Homo sapiens: one gene and its partners. The protein of the gene in region 7 interacts with the protein of the main gene of each other region in a pairwise test. Each region holds a gene or a part of one and is shown on either strand. Other genes may lie near its edges.

Region 1 (3,500 bases), on a different chromosome or scaffold from region 7:
CTACCCTGATTCAAATAAATAAGAATGTGTATCACAGAGTGAATCATTTGCCTGAAGCCATAAACCCAATAGAACAATGTTTTCTTTACAAATAAATAAGCCAATAATGAAAATACAGATAAGTCATTTGAGTCTCACCATGTTTTTATTTACTAATATCAAGGACAGAAGTGTTTGTAGCTTGTGATAATTACTCTTTATTTTCTGTTAAAATGAGTTTGAAGGGTTTGTGGCTTTTTTTTGCAGTTTTCTGTATACTTTTAAAACTTTTCTTTACGTATTTCAAACTAAGTTATTTTCAGATACCAGATTTGGAAATAATAGCATTTACTAACATTTGAACAGTTATTTTACAAACGTAAGTTCTGTAAGTTTACTCTTTTTGATAAGGGAGTTTTCTCCAAAAGAGTTTAAGGTTGCCATTTTTTTTCCAGGTCAGTTGCACTATCTAAGACAGTTTTAATATATTCATACTATTTTTCAAGTGGAACACATTCAAAATAATTTATCCACCAAAAAAGGAAGCAAGAGTACCTATAATTTTAGGCTGGAAGACTTTGAAATGCTAAGAAACATGGTTTTAAAATATTTTCTGGAGAAAGAAAAGGATTTTTAAGGTTTTGGTGATCTTTGATGTATATAAATAGTCTATTTGCCTGACAACTAATAGACAGTAATAACATTATAGATAGCATTAACTTACCAGTAGCCAAGAAATAATAGGGATTGGGAAAGTCTCTGTACTTTTATTTGGTCTTTTATTATGTGAAATATGCATATATCATACTATTTCTTTATATAAAACTATACTTAGGCCAGGTGAGGTGGCTCATACCTGTAATCCAGAACTTTGCAAGGCTAAGATGGGTGGATCACCTGAAGTCAGGAGTTCAAGGCCAGCCTGGCCAAAATGGTGAGACCCCTTTTCTTCTAAAAATGTAAAAATTAGCTAGGCATGGTGGTGGATGCCTGTAATCCCAGCTACTTGGGAGGCTGAGGCAGGAGAATCGCTTGAGCCTGGGAGATGGAGGTTGCAGTGAGCCTAGATCACGCCATTGCCCTCCAGCCTGGGCAACAAGAGCAAAACTTGGTCTCAGACAAACAAACAAAAAAACTATGCTTAAAGAAATAGTAATGTTTTTCAAATAGAGAATAGAACCTTTCTTCTACTTTTTTTTTTTTTTTTTTTTTTAAAGCAGAGTGTTACTCCGTCACCCAGGCTGGAGTGCTGTGGCGCGATCTCAGCTCACTGCAGCCTTCACCTCTGGGGTTCAAGCGATTCTCCTGCCTCAGCCTCCTGAGTAGCTGGGATTACAGGCACCTGCCACCACGCCTGACTAATTTGTGTATTTTTAGTAGAGATGGGGTTTCACCATGTTGGCCTGGCTGGTCTCGAACTCCTGACCTCAAGTGATCCACCTCAGCCTCCCAAAGTGCTGGGATTACAGGCATGAGCCACCACACCTGGCTCTTCTACCTTTTTGAAGAGCACTTTACCTTCTCTACATTAATACCACAATGTGAAGAGTTACTATCCTCAATGTTTAACAAAACTAGAAATTTATGACAGGGAACTAGACTGAATACATCCATCCTCCTCTCTGACTTCTCTGAATCCTGAATCAGAATTTCTCTCTAGTCCAAGAAGAATATGAGTAGTTATTAATACCATTCAGCAATATTCCTGATTTTCTTCTGCTCATATGGTGAAATTACACTTCCTTGCCCTCTTACGCATCACTGTGTGATGTTCATTGATCAGTGAAATGTAAGCAGAAGTGAAGTGTTAGCATCCAGGTAGAAGTTAATAAGAGAAGGTTTATGATTTTCAAAGTAAATTCTTCTCCTTGCTGCAGTGAGGTGGTCCAGATGGTTGGAGGCTCGGTAGGCTGTGTCCCTGTTTGTGGTCAGTGGGGAACAGAGTCTCTCTTGTCTTCCCTAATCCCTGAGATGTTGCATGATGCAAAAAATAAATCTTTGTTGTGTTAAGCCATTGAGATTATAGAGTTGTTTTGACACAGAATTAAGTGATATAAATATTAGGCACTACCTAGTAATAATGCTAGAGGTTTATTTGTATATATTCATTATATAGTGACTGGATATTTAGAAAATTGTCAAGACTATATTTTTAAATGATCACTTAGTGTACTTCTTAACCTTTATGTAAATAGATAGAACTCAGCTTGTTGTAGAATATGTGTTAAAAATTAAGGAGAAAGCCTTCTAGGGGCAAGGCTGAGGATAGATATGTTCAGTCCAGTTTTTTTGGGAGAACCACAACACAGAATGGCTTTTTTTTTTTTAAGAGCCAGGAGGAAGGGGGGCCCTGCAGGCAATGACTCCATCAACCTTTTATATATTTATTCATTTAATGAATATGTATTAGGTGGCAGCTATATCAGATGTTATTTGTTGCATAGGAGTTTACCATAACAAATATTCCTTCTGCTAAAGGATCTGACTTTTATTCATAGGTTCAGGAAGAGTGTGTATGTTGTCCTGGGTTACAATGTTATATGTATTTCTTAAGGTAGGTTGCTGCAAAAAGTATTTGAAAATGCTTGTTTTAGCATGTATAGTAAAAGTCAATGACAAAATAGGACTTGTAAAATTAAATGATAGAGAAATAGGCTGGGCACGGTGGCTCACACCTGTAATCCCAGCACTTTGGGAGGCTGAGGCAGTCAGATCACTTTAGGCCAGGAGTTTTGAGACCGGCCTGACCAGCATGGCGAAACCCCATCTCTACCAAAATATACAAAAAAATCAGCTGGGCATAGTGGCACACACCTGTAGTCCCAGCCACTTGGGAGGCTGGGGCACGAGGATCACTTGAACCCGGAAGGTGGAGATTGCAATGAGCAGAGATCACGCTACTGCACACCAGCCTGGGCAACATAGCAAGACTCTGTCTCAAAAAAAAAGTAAAAGAGATTTAAATAATTTTTTTAAACTGTGGCAAAATATATGTATAACATAAAATTTGCCGTTTTAACCATTTCTAAGTTTAGGGACATTAAGTACATTCATATTGTTGTGCAGCCTTTACCACCATAATTTTTTTTATGTGTATTTAGATTTTTTTTTTTTTTTTTTGAGATAGAGTCTTGCTCTGTCATCCAGATTGGAGTGCAGTGGTGTGATCTTGGCTCACTGCAACCTCCACCTCCCGGGTTCAAGCAATTCTCGTCCCTCAGCCTCCTGAGTGGCTGGGATTATGGGCGCCTGACGCCACACCTGGCTAATTTTTGTATTTTTAGTAGAGACGGGATTTCACCATGTTGACTGGGCTGGTCTTGAACTCCTGGCCTTAAGTGATCTGTCCGCCTCAGCCTCCCAAACTGCTGGGATTACAGGCGTGGGCCAAAGCACCTGGCCAAAAAATAATAAATTTTAAAGTGTGTTTCTACTTGGAAGGCTGAAGGATTCTTCTGTTTTTTAAGAGAGCATTAACAAAGCAATTATTTTGGTATTAAAAATGGGGAAAATTTGAATTT
Region 2 (3,500 bases), on a different chromosome or scaffold from region 7:
ATAGACTTCTAAAAGTGCCTCTTTTTTTTCTTGTTTCTTAATAATCTTCTAAGAATATGATTGCTGCTATTCCTGTGTGTACATTGGAAGAATTTGAAACTGATACACTGTTTGTAAATTGCCATGCTCTTGATTCATACCCTGAATCACCTTTCTCCTTCTCTGAGCTGTTACCAATCAAGATTACGTTGAAAGCCCTTCCAAATTGCAGCATGGCCAAAGTGTTGACTTGTCTATCATACTAAAACAGCAGCAAACCTTACACTAATACATCCTTGAACTTGGACATTCATTCAGCAATCTTGACTGGGCTCCAACCTTGGAGTGAGTGATGATGCCTGTTACCGAAGTGGGGTACAAAGAATATGCTGACAAGCCTGCCAAATGAGAACTCAGTTGTGGTGGGAGAGAAATTTTATTCCTGTTAGATCTGTGCTGTAATACAGTTCATGTTAAGTGTTCTAGAAGCACAGAGAGAAGGGATGGCAGTGCAGGGAAAGCCTGGCAATATATTTGCTAGGTTTTTCAAAATTTTTTTGAATTGCTACATCCAGAATTTAATATTTTGTCTGCTTTTGTGTAGTTCCCATTCCAGTTATTCAATTGGCATAATTATTTGATTATAATTTAGTTTCAGGTGAGGTGGTAAAGAAGAGAATACTTGTTCGGTTTGAAAAAGCAGCTTGAGGGGAGGAAGAGCATTAGGACAAATAACTAATGCATGCGGGGCTTAAAACCTAGATGACGGATTGATAGGTGCAGCAAACCTGCACGTTCTGCACATGTATCCCAAAACTTAAAAAAAAAAAAAGCAGCTTGAATATTGTATCCTTCCCCCTCTCCTGTACTAAAGATAGTAGGGTGTAATGTTAAATGTGCTAGACTACCAGGGTTTGAATTTTGGCTTTGTCATGTTCCAGCTCTGTATCCTAGGTCAAGAAAACTCCAGGCTTCAGTTTCCTTATCTGTAATGGGGGAAAGTATTTGGATCATTGTAAGATTGAATAAGTTCGTACACATAAAATGCTTAGAATTGTTCCAAGTAATTGCTACATGCTTAATAAATTATTTTATTGTTATTAAAATTAGGTAGAATCTCATTTGCTAAACATTGGGTTGTAAAGACAATGTGTGCACATTGTTATAAAAATGTGAAGAAAAGGCAGTGCGTGATGGCTCACACCTGTAATCCCAGCATTTTGGAGGCCAAGGTGGGAGGATCACGAGGTCAGGAATTCGAGACCAGTCTGGCCAACATGGTGAAACCCCATCTCTACTAAAAATACAAAAATTAGCAGGTGCGGTGGCATGCGCCTGTAGTCCCAGCTACTCGGGAGGTCAAGGCAGGAGAATTGCTTGAACCCAGGAAGCAGAGGTTGCAGTGAGCTGAGATCACACCCCACTGCACTCCAGCCTGGGCAACAGAGCAAGACTCCGTCTCAAAAAAAAAAAAAAAAGTGAAGACAAAATAATTTTGATATAAATAGCTGTACTCAGTTCCATATTGGGTCCTATGAGAAATGTAAAAATCAAAAGATAATAGAACTTGAAATTCTTTAAAGGTCATCTAGTTTGACTTCATAATTGAAACCCAAAGAAATTATGACCGGTTCAAGGTTTCTCAGTACATAACAGAAGTGTTGCTGAGAACCATGGCCTCTGATGCTACTCAGTCCAGCGCTCTCTCAGTACCCTGTGCAGCTTCCCTGAAGTGACAGCGCCCTGGAAAACTAACAGTTTAATTGGCAGCCAAGTCCAAAACAGGTGAAAACATTAGCAATAAAAAGTCAGTATATAATGGAATATCAGATGGTGTACATAGATTAAGTCCCTACCGTATTTAACTTTGTGAGCTGCTCTCTTGAAGCGGAAATGCACCTTCTTAGTAATTTCATTCATTGAAGGTTGAAAGATGAAGAGCATTTGTTTTTGAAGAGGGTGTTAATAAAGTCAATTTCCCTCTTTCCTCCTACCAAGGTTGGATTGTTCATTAAGCCAGGGGGAGAGTCCACTTTTGCCAGGTCTGCCAGTACTCCATGGCTTTGCCCTTGATGATAGTTGGGGAAAAGTCTGGCCTCTGTATTTCTGTTCCCTGTCTTCCTGATGGGCCAGATTCCCACAGACATTCCCTCAGGTATGAAGACTGCATTACCCTTGCTCATGGGTATGCGTACATATGTGGAACAGGTGCTAGAAGTGTACCTGATTGGTGGGATTTGTCTAAGTCGAGATTTCCACTCAAGGACAGGGCTGCTACTTTTTGGGATTGAGCTAAGAGTACTTTCACACATTATCTCATTTAATTGTGCTTGAATACTCTGCTGCTAAAAATTTTACAGAATAATACATGCTCCTATAACATTCAAGCTATATAAAGATATGCTATGGAAGAGGTGAAAGCCCTGCTCTTCTACCCCTCCCTGTACCCAAATTATTCCATCCCAAGAAGTGTCATTTGTGACATTTTGTAACTTTTCCAGAACTTTCCCCTAAATATATATAGGTAGTTTGAGTTAACAAAAAATGGTGATCATACTGTTCTAATTAACCTGTAACTTCTTTTTTTGTGCTATACATGCATATGTGCTTTAATCTTTAATAATCCCAGAATAGCCTGGCTGTACCATATGTGTTGGTTTTTAACAGTTTGTCCATGATGGATATTAAGATTGTCTCTAGTTTTTTGCCATTTCAAATAATACTGCAATTCAACAATGTCCTCAATATATATTATGCTTGCTCTCTTATATGCCTAGAAGTATGATTGTTTAGTGGAAAGATTTACACATTTCAAATATTTGTATACTGTTGGAATTGCCCTTTAAAACAACAAACTACTGATCTCTGGTAAAGTGCTATTTCCCTTACATAATTGACTATCTTAAAAAACTGTAGGACATTTGTATAATTTTCTAACCAGTTTTTGCCCAACAAGACTGCTTGCTGTTTTATTTTATGCATTTTTTATCACTCATGCCATTCTACCATTGGTTTTGGTGGTTCAGAATGGTGCTGTTTATCCCCATTTCCTGTGCTTATCATCACCATAATTGCCTTTTAAAAACATAAATTTTTTTTCTTAATATGAAAAACACTTTCATTTATAGAAAATTTGGAAGACACAATAAAATAAAAGTTATATTTTTGTGCATGAAAGTACATAAAGAAAGGAATGAAAGTCCTGCCCTTGCCTTTTCCCTATTTTTTAAGTTGGTTTTTCCTTGCAATTTTTTCTGTCCTTATACCAACTTTTGTGTTTATAGAGCAGAATTTATGCCTGTACATATCTACTGATATTTGTTTTTTTTTCCTGAGGACTAAATAAGCTCATATTAGATATGGTTTTGTAACTTTTTTACATTACTTAACAAAATATCATGGAAGTCTTTCCAAGAGTAAAATAGCTAATAATAGCTAGCATTTATTGAGCACTTACCATGTACCCATGACCTTTTTTTAAGCCCTCTACATGCATAAGTTTATTTAATAAAATTATTAAA
Region 3 (3,500 bases), on a different chromosome or scaffold from region 7:
AAATACACATCTTATGTATAAAATTGACACTTTATTAACACATTAACCTATTTATGCCAGAGGTTGCAAATTTTTTTTGTGTGTGAAAAATCAGACCTTGGCCATGACCTTGAGCAGTAGGATATATATGATTCCCACAAGCTTAGCGTTCCAATAATGGAACACTAGGCATAAATGGGTTTTAATGAAGATTTTATTTTCAGTTTTCAGGACATCAATGACAAATCTATGGTGGAAGGCAAGAGGTCCATAAATCCTTTCTGGATGGCTTTTTTACTTGTGTTGTTTCAAGAGTTTTAGTTAAATAGGAAGTAGGCAAGCGTAACTACTGTGTGTCTTTTTTATTTCTTGCTGAAACACAGGAGTGTTTTATGGCATATTCACTTACAAAATTATTAGTAATGGTTCTACATGACAATTTGTAATCATAAGAGATGGTTCAGATGTATAACAGAATGGGAAAGCCAGCAGATTATTAACACGTTGTGAATTGCGAATTATCTGCTGTTGTACAGCACATTAGCAAATTATCATCAGACAATGACCTCTTCTTCATGTAGATGTAGATAATTTAGGAAGCAGTGGAATCTTTTTTGGGGAGATCTGGTATTCTTTTTAATAACCTTGGAAAAGACATGTTCATATGTCACTTCTCTACACTAACTGAGATGTGTTAAATAAACTGGGAAAAGAGTTTGAAAATAAAATTTTCAAGCAACTTGAGGATTATCTATACACAAACAGTTATTTAAATAGAAGTTACAAGTAGAGAACATGTTGCTATAATGTTCTCCAGATACCATTTATTAATTGGTATGAACATGAGACTAGTAGTTTTCCTGTCAGTATTAATGTTTCATGTTACCACTTAGGTTAGGAACTTTGCTATCATCTTGGACTCTTCTGAGTTCATTATCCTTCCCATGTAGTTATCACGAGGCAAGTTTTACCTCTGCAATGGTCCTTTAATTTCTTTCTTTAAATTCCCACTGCGGCTACCCTAGTCCAAGACCTCATTCTTCCTTACCTGTACTATTAAACTCTTTTCTGAGTTCTCTCTTCTCTTCTGAGCCATCCTTCATTGATTGGCAATATTATCTTTCTAAAACCCTTCCCTTCCTAAAATGCTTCCCAGCCCTTCCGTCTTCCCAGCCTGTCAGTGATGCCCCGTCTCAGTTCTTAGATATTCAGAGACTCTCCCCTTTACATGACCCCCTCTTAGGCTTGTTTTGCCGCCTTCTGTCTTTCCTCCCACTTCTCCAGGTTGACCGCCTTCCCTGAAGGAACTCACCGTTACTCCCATGCTTTGCTCATGCTCTTCCCTCACAATACTTTTAAAATCTTTTTTTGACTGATTGAAACCTTTCGCCAACTAAATCAACATCAGTCTCCATTTTTGGCTACATGCCCGAGTGAGTTGCCCTTCCATAGCAGTTACACAAGTTTTGTATTACTTGTTTTTTATTTGTGCATTTGCTCATGTCATAGAAATACGGAAGATTGTGTATTCATTTTTTACATCTTCCTCAGCATTAACCTACAACATTTTAGGGAGTAGGAACTGTTGAACTATTTGTTGAGTAAAGAGTATATATTTCAAACACAGTTACGTTTTCTCTAACTTGATGAGGTCATATCACCAACCATTTTATCCCTTCAATGGAAACCATGTTATGTAGGCTATTGCTGATAATACATGGGTCGCTACCTGCTGAAAAAAAATATAATATTTCATGATATAAGCCTGCCCGTCTTTTTCTGTCTTCGCTCCATCTTGACCTTAAGATGTTCTTCAACCCATTTTATTTAAGCAAAGTACATGACTGTTAGACCTGCTAAAATAATATGTCACTGAAATCTGGCATTAAAAAATTTAATTGGGTATTTGGAGCTCCATGTATTGATTATAGTTTTTTCTATTTGAAATGAATAACTGGCATCCTTTGAATATTAAAAGCTGTTTCCTTTTGACATTTAATTAACCCTGTTTAAAATGCGAGATATAAAGTGGTGGTTTGTCAGTGAACTAGACTTTTTCTTTTAGGCTCTTGAGGACTTTGAAGACCTTTGTGACAGAGTTTTTTCCGATGAAGACAGTGAACTTGATAACTAGACATGTTTTTAAATAAAATCATGTCAGAACTGTAAGTAGTGCATATTTAATATTAAAAACTCAGGATTGATGTAGCACTGGAATATTTTATTTGCAGAAATGTGTATTACAGTTACTTAAATTTTTTTTTGAAACAGCTTTTGGAAAAGTTGGCACTTACCCAGTTGTCTCTTCAACCTCTGTTATTCTGATGACTGAAGAAAGAACTTGAACCTATGTTATATGATACAAGCACAACTTGAGCTACAGTAAACTACATGACAGTGTTTTGATAATTGTTGTATAAATCGGTATAGCTCCTCTGTCACTCGTCTGTTAAATGCCAGACCTCGTTTCTATGATCTGTTGAATGAATCCTAGACACTTCTGTGAGAAAGCAGGGATTGCATAGTTATGTACACGGTCAATTAAATTTTAACATTAAAGATAATTTAGATTTCGATTTGGCCTCTGTGGATTTGTATCAGTTCCAAAAATGTAGAAAGCACAGGCATAGAAAAGTACATTTTTCTCTAATAAAAGAAGACAATATCTGCTGGGTGTGGTGGCTCACGCCTGTAATCCCAGCACTTTGGGAGGCCGAGGGGAGTGGATCACTTGAGGTCAGGAGTTTGAGACCAGCCTGGCCAACATGGTGAAACCCCATCTCTGCTAAAAATACCAAAATTACCCGGGCGTGGTGGCACGCACGTGTAGTTCCAGCTACTCAGGAAGCTGAGGCAGGAGGATCTCTTGAACCCGGGAGTTGGAGGTTGCAGTAAGCCAAGATTGTGCCACTGCACTCCAGCCTGGGCGACAGAGCAAGACTCTTTCTCAGAAAACAAGAAGAAGAAGACAAAAGCTATCTTATCTGTGCGTTCTTTTGTATTTACTCATTAGGATAAAGAGGCAATTCCAATGAAAGTAGGACTTCAAAAAATAGATATACTCTATGGCCATATCAAAATTATTAAAAGCACCTTACTGTCTGTGTTCTTAAAAAAAATTATACTGCTGTAAATGATTAAGGCAACTGAGCAAGATATATTAATATCAGTGCTGAGCCACTGGTTTGTGGGTATGTCATTTCCACAGACATCAAAATGCTATTTAGTTTGTTTTGGTCCATCATTCAATGATACCTCCCCTTAGAATTGAATGAAAGCATTTTGTTAACATTTATGTATGCTTACAATTATTTCACATCTGTGGCAAGGTAAATTTTGTAGAGTGCTTTGTTTATCCAGTTTAATATTCGTGGATTATGTGGAAGTTTATATGGACATCTAAAAACTTGAATGATGAATTCGCCTGCCTTTCCTTTTTTTAATGTGCAGTTTTCACATGTAACAACATATAACAAACATGTAAAAAGATTTTTTGCATGTAACATGTTAAAAAGATGTAC
Region 4 (4,286 bases), on a different chromosome or scaffold from region 7:
ACTAATTTTATTCATGAGGGCTTGCCTTCATGACCTAATCACCTCCCAAAGGCCACATTTCCAAATACCATCACATTGGGGATTTGGTTTCAACATGGGAATTTTAGGGGAATATAAACTGTCTATAGCATATGTATATATATGTATGATGGTTAATTTTAATGTGTCAACTTGATTGGGTCACCAGGTGTTTAGTCAGACATTATTCTGGGTGTGTGTGTGTGATGGTGTTTCTGGATGAGATTAACCTTTGAGTTAGTAGACTGAGTAAAACTGGTTGCCCTCCCTCATGTGAGTGGGCCTCATCCAATCGATTGAAGGTCTGAATAGAACAAAAGCTTGAATAAGAGGGAATTCTTCCTGCCTAACTGCCTTCAAGTGGGAATATGGGTTTTTTTCCTGCCTTCCAACTCAAATGGAAACATTGGCTCTCCAGGGTCTTGAGCCTGCTGGCCTTTGGACTAGAACCACACCATTGGCTCTCCTGGATCTTCCGCTTACTAACTGCAGATCTTGGGACTTTTTGGTCTTCATAATTACATGAGTCAATTCCTTATGATAAATCTGTTTCCATATATGTATACATTCTATTGGTTCTGTTTCTCTGGACAACTCTGACTATTACACTGTGTGTGTGTGTGTGTGTGTGTGCGTGCGTGCATGTGAGAGAGAGAGAGGAGAGAGAGATTATACTGTTATGCTGGTCTGTGGGCTCAGCATCAAAGTAGGAATTTTGCAACACACCCACAGTTAACACTCACTTTTTTCCTCAACACCTAGACTCTTTCAACTTCTTAACAGAGTCAGAATTTTGGAAGAAAAGAACATTAACACTAAATTGTCATTTTATAAATTATTAAACTAAAGCTTAGAGAAATAGTCAATCATAGTCCATAAGGAATGTATTGGCTGGATAGTCCCATTTCTATGCCATACCATGGCAAGTAAAAAAAAAAAATAATAATGTTTGCTTAAGGCTTATATGGGAAGTGTGTCCTGTGCTTTGATTAGAAAAGTGCCCCCAAAATGTTTTTTAACCTTGTATGGTTCATGAGCACCTCTGAGAATCTATTGAAACCTGTGAGTTCTCTTCCCGGAAGTGATTCTATAAGGACACAGACATAATTTTGCATATAATTTTAGAAACTCATTCACTTAAAAAAAAAAAAAAGGAATCTTCTTCCTGGTCTTGCCGTGACAGTCCCCAGCCCTCTCCACATGACCAGCCATCTGAGACCCATGGTAGAGCCACAAGTCTAAAACCCCTCACAGCACAGAAAGTAACTCAGAGCACGGCATGTGACCTCTCCTGGTGACACTTGAGTAGTAAGAAGTGGCAACTCAGCCACAGCAGGTCTATATTTGGACCTTCACTCATGGCAGGCCTGTTGCTATTTGTGGCTGCAGCCAGCTCATGTTACCATCCAGCTTTGGTGCCCCACTTGCAGAACTCTGGTGTAAAATAGGCAGGGGTAGCCTGTGGGGCATGCAGAGGTCACTAGGAAGGAAAGCCTGCTGAACACAGATTCAATTTTCTAGCAGAACTCCAGGTCCTCTGAGTTAAAGGAAGCATTTATGGACGCTTAGCAGGCAAGTTTTGGGGTAGTCATATTCTTCCAATGCAAATTGTATTATTAGAAACTCAATGCTGCAATATTAATGCAATATCTTTCCTGTAGGTGGGAAGAGATATCATGGTAAATTGCAGATGTTTAAATTACAATAAATAGTGTAAATGTTTTCTGTGCCTTCTTAAAGCAAGAATTCGCATTAACTGAACATGATGTTGGGACAGGATGTGAGAGGCTCTGATGAAGGCAGACAGGGGCTGGTGATTCTTATAATGTGTCTTTAGGATATCTGTAGTGCTGGGACCCATTAGTTAGAACCATTTGGTAGAACAGTTTGGAAATATAGATGTTGAATATCATCTGGCTATACTATTGTGTTGTAAATACATTTTATTTAATCTGTGTGTACATGCTGAAAAATAATAACTTCATGCATTGATTCAAATACTAAAAAACAGCATCGTAATTATTTTTCACTTGTTATGCATACAGCCTCCTCCTATAGAAAGTTTTCAGGTTCGGGCAGTGTCTGCAAAGCTGATTTGAATCATTTCATATCACTGTAACACTTTAAGGCAAGCTTTCTTTCACTGCTGTGGCTCAGGAATTGCCAAGGGCTGCATGGAAGAGCTAAAATTATAGGCAAAGTTATGTTCCTGCCCTTATGGAATCACTTCTGGGAAGAGAATTCACAGGTTTCAGTAGATTCAGTAGATATGCCCATGATCCATAAAAGGTTAATAAACAAGCCAAGTGAGGTGGCAGATTGCATGAGCCCAGGAGTTCAAGACCAGTCTGGGCAACATAGCAAGAACCTGTCTCTAAAAAAAAAAAAAAAAAAAAATTATTGGGGGACTTTTCTAAGTAATGCACAGGGATACACCTCCCATATAAGCCTTAGACAAACATCTTTTTTATTTTTTTTAACTGCTTCCCTTGGCATAGAGGAAAGGGTATCCAGCAAAGACATTCATAATGGACTATGACTAATTGCTTTACTTCTCTAAGCTTTAGTTTCACCATTTATAAAATGACAGTTTATTGTCAACTTTCCTTTCTCCCCAAATCCTGATTTTGTTAAGAAAGAGTCTAGGTGTTGAGGGGAAAAGTGACTGTTAACTGTAGGGTGTGTTGCAAAATTCCTACTTTGACACTGAGCCAGTTTGTGTTGAGACCACTTTGTGTTGTGTGTTCGAAGGGCAAGTGCCAGCTTGAAAGCATGTGTTCTTATCTGTATTTGCACTAAGTGTTTTCCAGTCTTCTGACAGTTCAACTTGGTGTTTCACATTCCAGCTTCTGGTTGAAATAATTTCTCATGATGATTTATTGGTCATACAGAATCCTGGCTATTTCCCTTTGGGTAGCACATGGGAATGTAAGCATTATTTTAGTGAACTGCTCCTCTGTCTGTAGATGGTGTGATTTAATGGAAACCTGGGTTTGAATCCAAGCTCTTCACCTGACTGGTTGTGTGTCAGGTGAAAAGCTTGGATTCAAGCACAGGGCTAAATACAGAGTAGCCCAGATACATTTTTGTAAAAGAAAATTGGCTATAAGCAAGTCCTTTATCCTCACAAGATCTCAGTTTTGCCATCCTAAAATCAGGAATTTTTTTTAAACATCCATGACCTGCTGAATAAAATCAGGAAATTGAATTAGATGCTCTCCAAGGGACCTCCATCCCTAGAATACCATATCTCTGCCTGGGCCCCCTGGGAGAGGAATGATCTCATAGCTGATGTCTGTGCGTGGTTATGAGGCTGTTCTGCTTGGTGCCTTCTTTCATCATCGGCTGTTTTCAAGGGACAAATATTCCCACAGTAGCCATGGATGATTCCACACTGCTGTGGTCACTCTCCATGAGTGACTAGGTAGAAGGCTTCTAGCCCAGGTGGGAGATACTAAGGTAGGAATCATGATAATGATAGTAAGAACAACAACAATAACAGCAGCTAACACTTACTGAGGACTTACTTTAAGCTATGTACTATGCATAAAGTACATTATGTTATTTCATCTAAATGCCAACCTTATGAGGTAGACACTGTTAATAGAGCTGTTTTATAGTCCATTAAAGTTAGGCCTAGAGAGATGATTTTCCTGAAGTCATACTTCCAGGATGTGGCAGAAACAATGCAAACACAGGACTCTCTGAATCCAGAGGGCAGTGATCTTGGGGAGCAGGGAGAGGGGACAGGAAAAGGGATATTACTTAGAGATTCAAGAGGTAGAGTCAGAATCAGCATGAATTAGTTATTAATTAGATTGGGGGTGTCAAGGATGAGCTTCTGGTCTCTGGTTTGGTGCTGGAGGGGGTGGATGTCATGCTCTCATTCATGGATAGTAGCAATGCAGTGGACTTCATGGAGGGCCATGTTGGATGAGTATGGGGTTTAAGAAGCAGTGGTGAGATAGGGAAGAGTGGGAGCTCTCAGCAGGCAGGACAGTCTGAGCCAGGGCCTAGGGTGAGTCTCACATGGAAGACCCTGAGCGCGGCCAGAAGGAACAGAGGGTTACCGCTAGGGAAGGTGGGGCTGCTTGGGGAGTATAGAGCTATGGCATGGGGTGGGGGATCCCTGGTGCCCAGGAGAGTTGGGACTTGCCAGTAATGGAGCCCTCAGAATGCACGATGTGCAGATGTACCACTTCTGCCTGAACAAAGCAACATATGCTGTATAAGCTATGCTGCTATCCTGGGCAGGGACACCCCTGAGG
Region 5 (3,500 bases), on a different chromosome or scaffold from region 7:
TTTCTTTGGTGCCGTCACTGTTCCCTGATTGCTCAGGAGCCTGTGGCAATATGTTGGAATGTGCACTTTGAAGAAGCAGGGACTTAATCCAGTATTTACAGACTGGCTTTGTCAGGGAACGCCCTTCACCAGTCAGCCTGTTCACAGATTCTGGGCAGGCCATGTGGTGTGGTTCAAGGGTGGTCAGAGCCAGTATCCAGAGAGGTGACCTGAGGCCTGGCTCCATGAGGGCTGAACTGGCACTGGAATAGGCCTTGTACTTGGGTCTGCAGATGTCAGCCAGGTGCTGTGATGGGTCTCATCCTTGGGTCCACAGGGAAGGGCCTGGAGCCTGAGTTCATGGGGACTGACCTGGCACTAGGACAGATCTGGAAGCTGAATCTATGGAGGTGGGTCAGGATCCTGGGTCTGTAGTGCTAGCCCGAAGGCACAAGCTAAGACTGATATCTTAGCTTATCATGCCTTTATCATGCCCTTATCTCTATGTGTTTCCAGACTTCTGTTTCCTGCACTTTCTGGTTCTTTATTCCATAGGGACATGTTGGATGATTTCTGTCAGTCAGGCACCGTGCTAATGGGATAATTATAAGAGGCCCTGCCCTCGTGGAACCTTTTCTCTGGGATAGTATTAAGACACACAGATCAAAATAACAGTCAGAAATTCCTGATAGGAACCATGAAGAAATTAAGTGATGAGTGAGACAGAGACGAGGTTGGTGGGGCCTCTCGGGGATGGTGATTTTGGCCAGTCTCCAAAGCTGGACAGGGATAGTTGTGCAGAGAGCCAGAAATGGTGCTCCTGAGCAGCCTCCCTAGGAATGACAGTCCCAGGGTGCAGGCGCTGGGGGATACCGAGCAGAGACGGGGCCACCATAGTGAGTGGACAGCAAACAGGTCAGGTGGACCAGCATGGGCAGATCACATGTAGATGAGGTTGGATTTTATTTTGTTATTTTATTTTATTGTTAAAAAAAAAAAAAAGTAGACTGGGCGTGGCATGGTGGCTCACGCCTGTAATCCCAGCACTTTGGGAAGCCGAGGAGGGTGGATCACCTGAGGTCAGGAGTTGGAGACCAGCCTGGCCAATATGATGATACACCGTGTCAACTAAGAATACAAAAAATTAGCTGGGCGTGGTGGTGGGTGCCTGTAATCCCAGCTACTCAGGAGGCTGAGGCAGGAGAATCGCTTGAACCTGGGAGGTGGAGGTTGCAGTGAGCCAAGGTCGCGCCATTGCCCTCCAGCCTGGGTGACAAGAGTGAAACTCTGTCTCCAAAAAAAATTTTAAAAAAGATAAAATATTTCTTTTCTTTTCTTTTCTTTTTTTTTTTTTTTTTTGAGACAGAGTCTTGCTCTGTCGCCCAGGCTGGAGTTCAGTGGCACAGTCTCAGCTCACTGCAAGCTCTGCCTCCCGGGTTCACGCCATTCTCCTGCCTCAGCCTCCCGAGTAGCTAGGATTACAGGTGCCTGCCACCACGCCCGGCTAATTTTTTGTATTTTTAGTAGAGATGGGGTTTCACTGTGTTAGCCAGGATGGTCTCGATCTCCTGACCTCGTGATTCGTCCGCCTTGGCCTCCCTAAGTACTGGGATTACAGGCGTGAGCCACCGTGCCTGGCCAAAAAAAGATAAAATATTTCAAATATTTATATTGATTACATATTGAAATGTAGTGTTTTGGATATTTTTAGGCTAAAAAATAGTTAAAATTAATTTGACCTCATTCTTTGTACTATTTTAATGTGGCTTTCATAGAATTTGAATTTTGCATGTGATTTGTATTATATTTCTGTCAGCAGTGCCAGTCAAAGGTATGTAATAGTGTAATAGATGCAGAATTGATGACAAGACCAAGCCAAGAAGAGCAGATTTCTCTGTCTGGATTCCACTGAGGGCCAAAAGAGAAATTTGCCAGCCATTGTCAGCCTCTGGGAATTCTGTGGTGACTCATTCATTAACTTTTCTCTCCCTTCCCAGGATCTCATAGATCAGAATATACTGGAGCCTGTAACCCGTGCACAGAGGGTGTGGATTACACCATTGCTTCCAACAATTTGCCTTCTTGCCTGCTATGTACAGTTTGTAAATCAGGTACAGAATGTGTGGACCCCTTGCCCAGAGGTGGAGTGCATAGTGATGAGGTGGGAGCTGTAGCCGATGTGAGTCGGGGAACCAAGTTCTAGCCCAACTTGGTAGTCTTCATCATGCCCTGTTCCATGATTATGACTAGTTGATTAAAAAAAAAAAATAGAAATCTTTTTTTTCTTTTCTTTTATTTATTTATTTTTTTGAAGACAGTTTCACTCTTGTTGCTGAGGCTTGAGGGCAATGGCATGATCTTGGCTCACTGCAACCTCTGCCTCCCAGGTTTAGTGATTCTTCTACCTCAGCCTCCTAAGTAGCTGGGATCACAGGCATGCACCACCACACCCAGCTAATTTTTTTTTTTTTTTTTTTTTTTTGGGAGACGGAGTCTCGTTCTGTTGTCCAGGCTGGAGTGCAGTGGCGCGATCTCGGCTCACTGCAAGCTCCGCCTCCTGAGTTCACGCCATTCTCCTGCCTCAGCCTCCTGAGTAGCTATGACTACAGGTGCCCGCCACCACACCCGGCTAATTTTTTTTTGTATTTTTAGTAGAGACGGGGTTTCACCGTGTTAGCCAGGATGGTCTCGATCTCCTGACCTCGTGATCCACCCACCTCGGCCTCCCAAAGTACTGGGCTTACAGGCATGAGCCACCGTGCCCAGCCAGTTTTTTGTGTTTTTAGTAGAGACAGGGTTTCTCCATGTTGGCCAGGCTGGTCTCGAACTCCCGACCTCAGGTGATCCGCTTGCCTCAGCCTCCCAGAGTGCTGTGATTACAGGTGTGAGCCACTGCGCCTGGCCAAAATCTTTTCTGTAATGCATGCCACCAGGCTGGGAAATCTTCTAAACTATTGCCTGCAGCCGGGTGGGGGCATCATTACAGCATAGAGGAGGCCTGGCCCAGTGGACAGGGCTGGGTTCCAGCAGTGGCACAGGTCTGCTCCGTGGCCAGGCTCTCTCCTCCCGGGCTCTGTGCTCCTGAAAGGTGCTTGGCCTCACTTAGCCTTCAGGTTCTCAGGCCCCTTCCTCTTCCCCAGCAAGGCCGGGGCTTTTGGGAAGTCCCCCAAGGGCCCCTCTCCTTGCAGAGTCTCTCAGGTGATGCCCTTGCGCCTCCCTTGCTACTGACCATGCCATCTAAACAATGCTTTTCCCCTAACCTGATATAATAAATAATGAATCACGGTCCTTTTGTATTGGTCCTTACATACAGGGTGGGTGTCCTGTATGAGTCCCGAGTGTGCTGGTGCAGAAACCAGCCCTCAGAACTCCTTGGTGAACTGAGTTGAGCTGAGTGGGAGGGGATGGGGTGGTGAGGAAGGGTGGACAGACATGTCAGGGAAACACATTCTCAAAACCTTATGCTCTGTTGTCAGGTCAAACAAATAAAAGTTCCTGTACCACGACCAGAGACACCGTGT
Region 6 (3,500 bases), on a different chromosome or scaffold from region 7:
TTGTCTTTAAGAGTTCTTCATTTCTGTCCCATTGCCTTCTGAAACTTAACATGTGAAAATTGTACCTGACAAAGGAGGACTGGGCTATCAACAGTTGACTACGCTATTGACACCATGCTCTTGGAGTTTGGTTCTCACACTAACCATTTAACTTGGCTCAAAGTATTCATTCCCAATTCCCCTTAACGTATTCTATTCACAGCCTGTCAGATATAAGCCATTTGTTGGGAGATATTACAAAATATATAAATAGTGCCAGCCTACGAGCACCAGGAAAAGCATTATAGCACTGGCTTCTTAAGTGGAGAATATTACAATCTCACGTGCATAGTGATTTTTTTTTTTTTTTTTTTGAGATAGGGAGATAAGGTGTGTTCCACTCCTGGATACCTAATTGTCAGCTCTTTGGTTTTGGGCTTAGCAATACTTACCAATGTATGCTTGCCACAGAGTTTAATACTAAGTTAATATTGCAAAGCTAAGCCTTTTAGCTTAGAATGGAAGCCATCACCTTCAAAATTCGCACTTTCAAAATCTCACAGTTTTTTGAGTGAATATTTTATAAAAATCACTCATCGGGTATTTACTGAATACCTACTATGTGCAAGGCACTCCTCTGGGAACAAAGATGTTTAAACCCTTCCTCACCAGAAAGACCTATAACCTAGTTGAGAGTATAGTCACAAAAGTAACTACCATTCAGGGAAGAAAGAATTAAGTATGGGAAGTGAACTGCAGCTAAAACATTTTCCAGGTGGGTCTATCTACTTTAAAAAATAACATGGGATCATCTGCACTATTGGGCTGAACAAGATATTTAGGATCCCTGCTCTCAATGAGCTTATCTTGTAAAATGCACAAGAAAAATTGAATTTTTAATAGTATTAATCACGAAAAAGAATACAGATAATCATTGAATTCATTGTGTTTTATTTTGCAGTTTTAGTGTTTAAGAAACTACTTATATTCCCCAAGTTATTCATTCACATTTATCTTTGTGGGAGATACTCTAGGATTCTTATTCACATGCTTCTAACTGCAGTGTTTTGGATGCCATAGTAATTTTCATTTACTCAGCTTATAATTAAGAACATACTATGCATCAAGCCTTCTTTTATGCCCTGAAAATAGAGTAACTAACATGGCTCCTGCCCTTAAAAGAAATTACTGTTTGGTGGAATATAAAGTCAAGAAAGAATTACCATGCTGTGTATGAAGTGCTAATATAGGTTTATAAAAAGTATTGTGGAACAGCAGGATAGAGTACATCTGACTTCTGGAGAGGTCAGAACAGGCAGCTTTAATGAGGTGGGGACATTTGAGGTTAGCCTTCAATAATGAGCCATGGTTCATTAGAAAATGGGAAAGAGAATTCCAGGTAGAAACAAGGACACGTACAAACACAGAGACAAGAAGGACAATGGCAAGAACGTTCTGTCAGTTGTGAGATTTTGGTGGGCCGTGGCAGAAAAAGGAAAAACAGCAGGTAGGACTCAGGTTCTGGTTTGCTGAGAAATGCTAGGCCAAGGCATTGGATTTATTGTCTGATGGAAAGCTGTGAAGGACAGAGAGAAACTTGATCCAGCTTGTGTCTTAGAAACCTTTGAGTGATGAAGTTTGGTTGTAAAACAAAGGGACTGAAGGCAGGAAGAGCAGTTAGGGGGCTTATTGCAATAGTTTAGATAAGGGATGAAAAGAACCTGAAATAGAACCAATGAAAGAAGGATGGAGAAGGAGAGAGAGAGGTTTGAGGTTTGGGAAGTCAATTAAGTATGTAAAGTTTGACTTGCCCCAAAGTGATACCTAGACTAAACTTAAATATAAGATGTAACTCAGAGGAATTATGCCAGAAAAACAAATGTTAATGAAAGGATGATTGTGAGGGAGGGACTTTAGGGGAGGCAGGTTCAGTCATGCAGATAAATCTATGAAAGGGACTTCAGGTTATTTTCAACTGAGAGCTTTGACTTTGGACTAGTAACATGTATATGTTCTGATGTATAGAGTTTATTGCCTGGAAAATGTTGACTGTGAAGGGACATTGCTTATTTGCAGTGTGCAAGAGGGAGCTGTCCATGGACATAGTTGTCCCCTAAATGGGTTTTAAAACTGTAGGTATTTTTTTTCCTTTGCCTCTGGATTAAAAATCTTCATCCACATTAAAAGAATCTTTAGGCCGGGTGCAGTGGCTCATGCCTGTAATCCTAGCACTTTGGGAGGCTGAAGCAGGTGGATCACCTGAGGTCAGGAGTTCAAGACCAGCCTGACCAACATGGTGAAACCCCCATCTCTACTAAAAATACAAAATTAGCCAGGTGTGGTGGCACATGACTGTAATCCCAGCTACTTGGGAGGCCGTGGCAGGAGAATTGCTTGAACCTGGGAGGCAGAGTTGCAGTGAGCCAAGATCGCACCATCACCCTCCAGCCTGGGAAATAAGAGCGAAACTACATCCCCAAAATAATAAATGAATAAATAAATAACCTTTAAAGTTTCATAAGGGAAAATAAACCAATGCCCCTGCCAGAGATTATTATCAACAATCATTTGCTCCGACTGGCAGTCCTTTAAAAAAAAATACGAAGAACTGAAATATGGAAAACTTTAAACCAAGTAGCTGAAAAGATTCACCTTGAGCTCCAAAGGAAAAAGTCATAGAGAAGAGATTTGTTTTGTAGAGCCTGATAGAAATGTTGTACGTGGTGGTAGGAGCTGTGGACATGGTGTATTTGCAGTGATATGGCTGAATAGAAATGACCCTGTAATGACAAAGGACAGGAACCAGGTTGGCATACCCAGTATCATGCACATGCAGTACTTAACAAATGCTACTTGTTTGTTCTATAGTACAAACTGAGCAGTATGTGAAAATAGTCTGGAGACATTGGCTGGAGTGGAGAAGGGCAGCTTGGGAGTAGATGCCCTCTTAAATCTTGCCCAACATGTAAACTGCCATAATTCTTCTCCAGGTTTCTGCACTTTAACTTGAATTTCCTAAGTGTTCTATTTTATATAAGAGTACCATATCCTTTTATAGACAACATATATAACAATCTCAACTTCTGTATAATAGCTATGAGAAGGAGGAAGGTAAAAAGAAAGGAAAGAGGCAGTGATTTATACGGGTCTGGCCAATATCAGGGCATTGGCACGCAGGAACAGCTTTAAACTAAAAGTGATAACTAGTTACCTGCAAACATGAAAAGGGAATTTTCAAAATCGAGAGGAATTATTATAAAGAAGAATAAAAAGAACCAGAACATATTTCTCCTCTGTAATATGAGCTTTCCATTTTAGGGTCGGTGTCAGCTATTTAAGCAGCTGAATTGGAGGTTTAGGTCACATGGGGAGGAAGAAAGTATAACTCTCTATAGCACTCTCAGACATATTTTTAAAGCCTTCAAATGTAAAGCTAAAAAGTAGAACTTCTTTTGCAATGAGTATTAACGTATTTTGGTCATAAGCCTCTTATGTGTATGTCATTTCTCATTACATCCCAG
Region 7 (3,438 bases):
GGGTGGGCCTGGTGGCTGTTCAGAAAGTCCCAGGCCCCTGAGAGAGGAGGGCTCTATTGTGAAGCCATTTAGCTCTTCCCAACACTCATCACTGCTGCATTTATCTAGGCCATATCTAACACATACCACTGGGGATCCTAGGGCTAGGCACTGCGTGGAGCCAAAGGGAACGTGGCCTCACACCCAAGGAGATCCAAGTCTGATGCAGAAGGCCCCGCCTCATTCTTAGGTCTGACTAGAAGACCCTCCCCCCGCACAAAGAAGATGACCCCCACCTTTAAGGATCCCTTCTCTTGGAGAACAAGAATTTATTGTTTTCTTTTCTTCTCTATCCCAAGCCCATCTCTGATGATGAAGCCAGTGATGGGGAAGAAACCCAGGTTAGTGCAGCTGATCTGGAAGCCCTCATCAGTGGCCACTACCCCACCTCCCTTGAGGGAGATTGTGAGCCTAGCCCAGCCCCTGCTGTCCTGGATAAGTGGGTCTGTGCACAGCCCTCAAGCCAGAAGGCGACCAATCACAACCTCCATATCACAGAGAAGCTGGAAGTTCTGGCCAAAGCCTACAGTGTTCAGGGAGACAAGTGGAGGGCCCTGGGCTATGCCAAGGCCATCAATGCCCTCAAGAGCTTCCATAAGCCTGTCACCTCGTACCAGGTACCCAGGGGCTAGAGTGGGAGGAGGGGTCTTTACTGGCCAGTGGTTAGTAACCCCAGTGGGGTTCAGGTACAGTGGTGAAGATTTTATGGGGTCTAGGACTTGCACAAAAGAAAAAAAAGGAAAATTGATGAAAGCAGATTGGCAAAATCTTGATAGTTGTTGAAGCTGGGAGATGTACGATACTTGGGGGTTATATGGATCTCTCTACTTTTGAATTTTTTAACATAATTAAAAGTTTTTTATTTTTAATTTTGTTTATTTATTTATTTATTCATTTATTTAGCAGAGATGGTGTTTTGCCGTGTTACCCAGGCTGGTCTTGAACTCCTGGGCTCAAGCAATCTACCCTCGGCTCAGCCCTGCAAAGTGCTGGGATTACAGCCATGAGCCCTTGTGTCCCGCCTAAAAAGTTGTTTAAAAGAAGTTTGGACTCTGAAGCCTAACAGACCAGGGTTTGAACTCTGGTTCCTGTCATTCACTAACTGTGTGACTCCAGACAAGTTACTTAAACTCTCAAAGCATCAGTTTTCTCATTAGTAAAAAGGGGCTACTATTAAATGAAATGGTCCCTGTAGCACAGGACCTGACATAGAGTAAGCCCTCAGTAAATGTTAGCTCTTGCTGTTGGAATGATGATGATGGTGGTGGTGGTGGTGGTGACTAATATCATCATTATTTTCTACTTCTTACTGCTGGTCTCCATCCTTCTGGGAACCAAAAGACAAATTACCCAGCCCTCATTCTATCCAAAATTCTCATCTTCAACTACACCCAAGCTTTACACAGCCACACAGTTGCCAAGCAGCCAGGCTGGCTTTTATGTCAGCATCTGCTAGAGGAGTCAGCTTCCTTTCCACTGGCTCTACCTCTTCCATCTCCTCACTCTTCTTTCTTGCCTCTGCCTCCTCCTCCTCTAGGAGGCCTGCAGTATCCCTGGGATTGGGAAGCGGATGGCTGAGAAAATCATAGAGATCCTGGAGAGCGGGCATTTGCGGAAGCTGGACCATATCAGTGAGAGCGTGCCTGTCTTGGAGCTCTTCTCCAACATCTGGGGAGCTGGGACCAAGACTGCCCAGATGTGGTACCAACAGGTCACACCCTGGCTCAGCCCCTACTTCAGTTTTGCTGTGTCTCAGAGTTCCTGCCCCAGATGTGTGCTGTGCTCTGCCCCAGATCCCTATGCTGTGCTCTGATGGGAATGCACCCACAGTATAGGGAGACCATTTTTCAAGCGGACCAGGACTCATATAGACCCCTCAGCTCCCAGAACAGCCTTGTTGCTTGGTATCCTTAAGAAGGAGTAGACAGGGACAAGAAGTATGTTTCTCAGTCTCCCCAGACCAGCAAGGGCCTTCCTGAGGAGGCCAGGCCTTGACACTGCGTGTCTAGAGCAGTGGTTCCCAATCCTGGCTCTGCCCACAATCACCAGGGCAGCTTGGTAAGGATGAAGATGACAAGGTCCATCCTCAGACTGATGGAATCATGAACGAGCATCTTAGGATAGTGGCAGGGCTGGATGATGGCATGTTTCCCATGCTCCCTGCCTTTCCCAAGTCCTGCTGAGTACAGACCCAACTGCCCCTAGGTTGGTCCTGCCTCTAGCCTTCCCTAGAGTCTGGGGCGATGGAAGCCTTGTGTGTGTGCTCACTCATGCCTCTTCATTGGTCCTGGATCCTTACAGCTTCCCATCTGGCTGCTTTTTTCCAGGGCTTCCGAAGTCTGGAAGACATCCGCAGCCAGGCCTCCCTGACAACCCAGCAGGCCATCGGCCTGAAGCATTACAGTGACTTCCTGGAACGTATGCCCAGGGAGGAGGCTACAGAGATTGAGCAGACAGTAAGCAGGTGTCCCAGAGCAGTGAGGACAGCCAGGTCCTGCTGTAAGGTCTTGGGTCAAAGCCAAGAACCCCCAACTCCTCAGCTGGGGAGGACAGCAGGCAGAGGAAACTGTGGATCACCAGAGGTTGAGCACAGAGCAAGTTAAGACTGAAGCTCCAGGCCCAGAGGTGGGGGTGGGGAGCTTTGGGAGGAAAGAGCTGTAACACCAGCCCTCTAGATTCTGGTTCTCAGTAGTCAGGCCTATTAGGATTGGATTCAATTCTAGACTGATTGGTGTTAGGATTGGGTTAATGTTAGGGTTAGATTACAGGTGAATTATATCTGTACTGAGGTTAGGGTGGGTCAGGGCAGAGGGTTTTAATATTTTATTTTATCTTTTTTTTTTATTTCACCAACTTCTTTGAGAACCTGATGAAAACTGTGGACTGTTTTCTCCCCAAAATGCACAAATGTGCAAAGGTTTATGTCTTTTTCCAGATGTATGGACCTTCTAAAGCCCACGCAAGGCTGGCTCAGGATTTGGGGTAGAGTTGGTGTAAAAGCACAGTGTCAGTAGGATTTGGTTTGGGGCTGGAAGAAAGCTCCATCAAGATGGAGTTAAGACCAGGCACAGTGGCTTATGCCTTTAATCCCAGCACATTGGGAGAACAGGGTGGACAGATCATCTGAGCTCAGGAGCTCGAGACCAGCCTGGCCAACGTGGTGAAACCCTGTCTCTATAAAACATACAAAAATTTCCAGCCTGGCAAACATGGCGAAACCCCGTCTCTACTAAAAATACAAAAAAGTTAGGCGGGTGCCGTGGCTCATGCCTATAATCCCAGTTTCTTGGGAGGCTGAGGTGGGAGATTTGCTTGAACCTGGGAGGCGGAGGTTGCAGCGAGCCAAGATTGTGCCACTGCACTCTAGCCTGGGCAACAGAGCAAGACTCTGTCTGAAAA

What was found.
Region 1: the proteins of POLL (region 7) and TRIM23 interact in binary tests that used the Homo sapiens proteins (3 or more experiments, as listed by UniProt).
Region 2: the proteins of POLL (region 7) and SSX2IP interact in binary tests that used the Homo sapiens proteins (3 or more experiments, as listed by UniProt).
Region 3: the proteins of POLL (region 7) and FAM9B interact in binary tests that used the Homo sapiens proteins (3 or more experiments, as listed by UniProt).
Region 4: the proteins of POLL (region 7) and FSD2 interact in binary tests that used the Homo sapiens proteins (3 or more experiments, as listed by UniProt).
Region 5: the proteins of POLL (region 7) and TNFRSF10D interact in binary tests that used the Homo sapiens proteins (3 or more experiments, as listed by UniProt).
Region 6: the proteins of POLL (region 7) and MAL2 interact in binary tests that used the Homo sapiens proteins (3 or more experiments, as listed by UniProt).

Annotation. Positions count from the first base shown.
Region 1 is NC_000005.10:65,614,334-65,617,833, reverse strand, and holds part of TRIM23 (E3 ubiquitin-protein ligase TRIM23), read left to right. Parts: intron 1-3,500.
Region 2 is NC_000001.11:84,680,462-84,683,961, reverse strand, and holds part of SSX2IP (afadin- and alpha-actinin-binding protein), read left to right. Parts: intron 1-1,494; exon of another isoform or gene 1,495-1,764; intron 1,765-1,977; exon of another isoform or gene 1,978-2,134; intron 2,135-3,500. UniProt on the Homo sapiens protein: Belongs to an adhesion system, which plays a role in the organization of homotypic, interneuronal and heterotypic cell-cell adherens junctions (AJs).
Region 3 is NC_000023.11:9,024,128-9,027,627, reverse strand, and holds the end of FAM9B (protein FAM9B), read left to right. Parts: intron 1-2,044; coding exon 2,045-2,113; 3' UTR 2,114-2,144; intron 2,145-2,250; 3' UTR 2,251-3,396; downstream 3,397-3,500. UniProt on the Homo sapiens protein: May play a role in meiosis.
Region 4 is NC_000015.10:82,803,270-82,807,555, reverse strand, and holds the start of FSD2 (fibronectin type III and SPRY domain-containing protein 2), read left to right. Parts: upstream 1-1,486; 5' UTR 1,487-1,590; intron 1,591-4,286.
Region 5 is NC_000008.11:23,147,028-23,150,527, reverse strand, and holds part of TNFRSF10D (tumor necrosis factor receptor superfamily member 10D precursor), read left to right. Parts: intron 1-1,976; coding exon 1,977-2,090; intron 2,091-3,455; coding exon 3,456-3,500. UniProt on the Homo sapiens protein: Receptor for the cytotoxic ligand TRAIL. Contains a truncated death domain and hence is not capable of inducing apoptosis but protects against TRAIL-mediated apoptosis. Reports are contradictory with regards to its ability to induce the NF-kappa-B pathway.
Region 6 is NC_000008.11:119,211,363-119,214,862, forward strand, and holds part of MAL2 (protein MAL2), read left to right. Parts: intron 1-3,260; exon of another isoform or gene 3,261-3,500. UniProt on the Homo sapiens protein: Member of the machinery of polarized transport. Required for the indirect transcytotic route at the step of the egress of the transcytosing cargo from perinuclear endosomes in order for it to travel to the apical surface via a raft-dependent pathway.
Region 7 is NC_000010.11:101,581,820-101,585,257, reverse strand, and holds part of POLL (DNA polymerase lambda), read left to right. Parts: intron 1-338; coding exon 339-656; coding exon of another isoform or gene 657-822; exon of another isoform or gene 823-908; intron 909-1,576; coding exon 1,577-1,750; intron 1,751-2,366; coding exon 2,367-2,495; intron 2,496-3,438.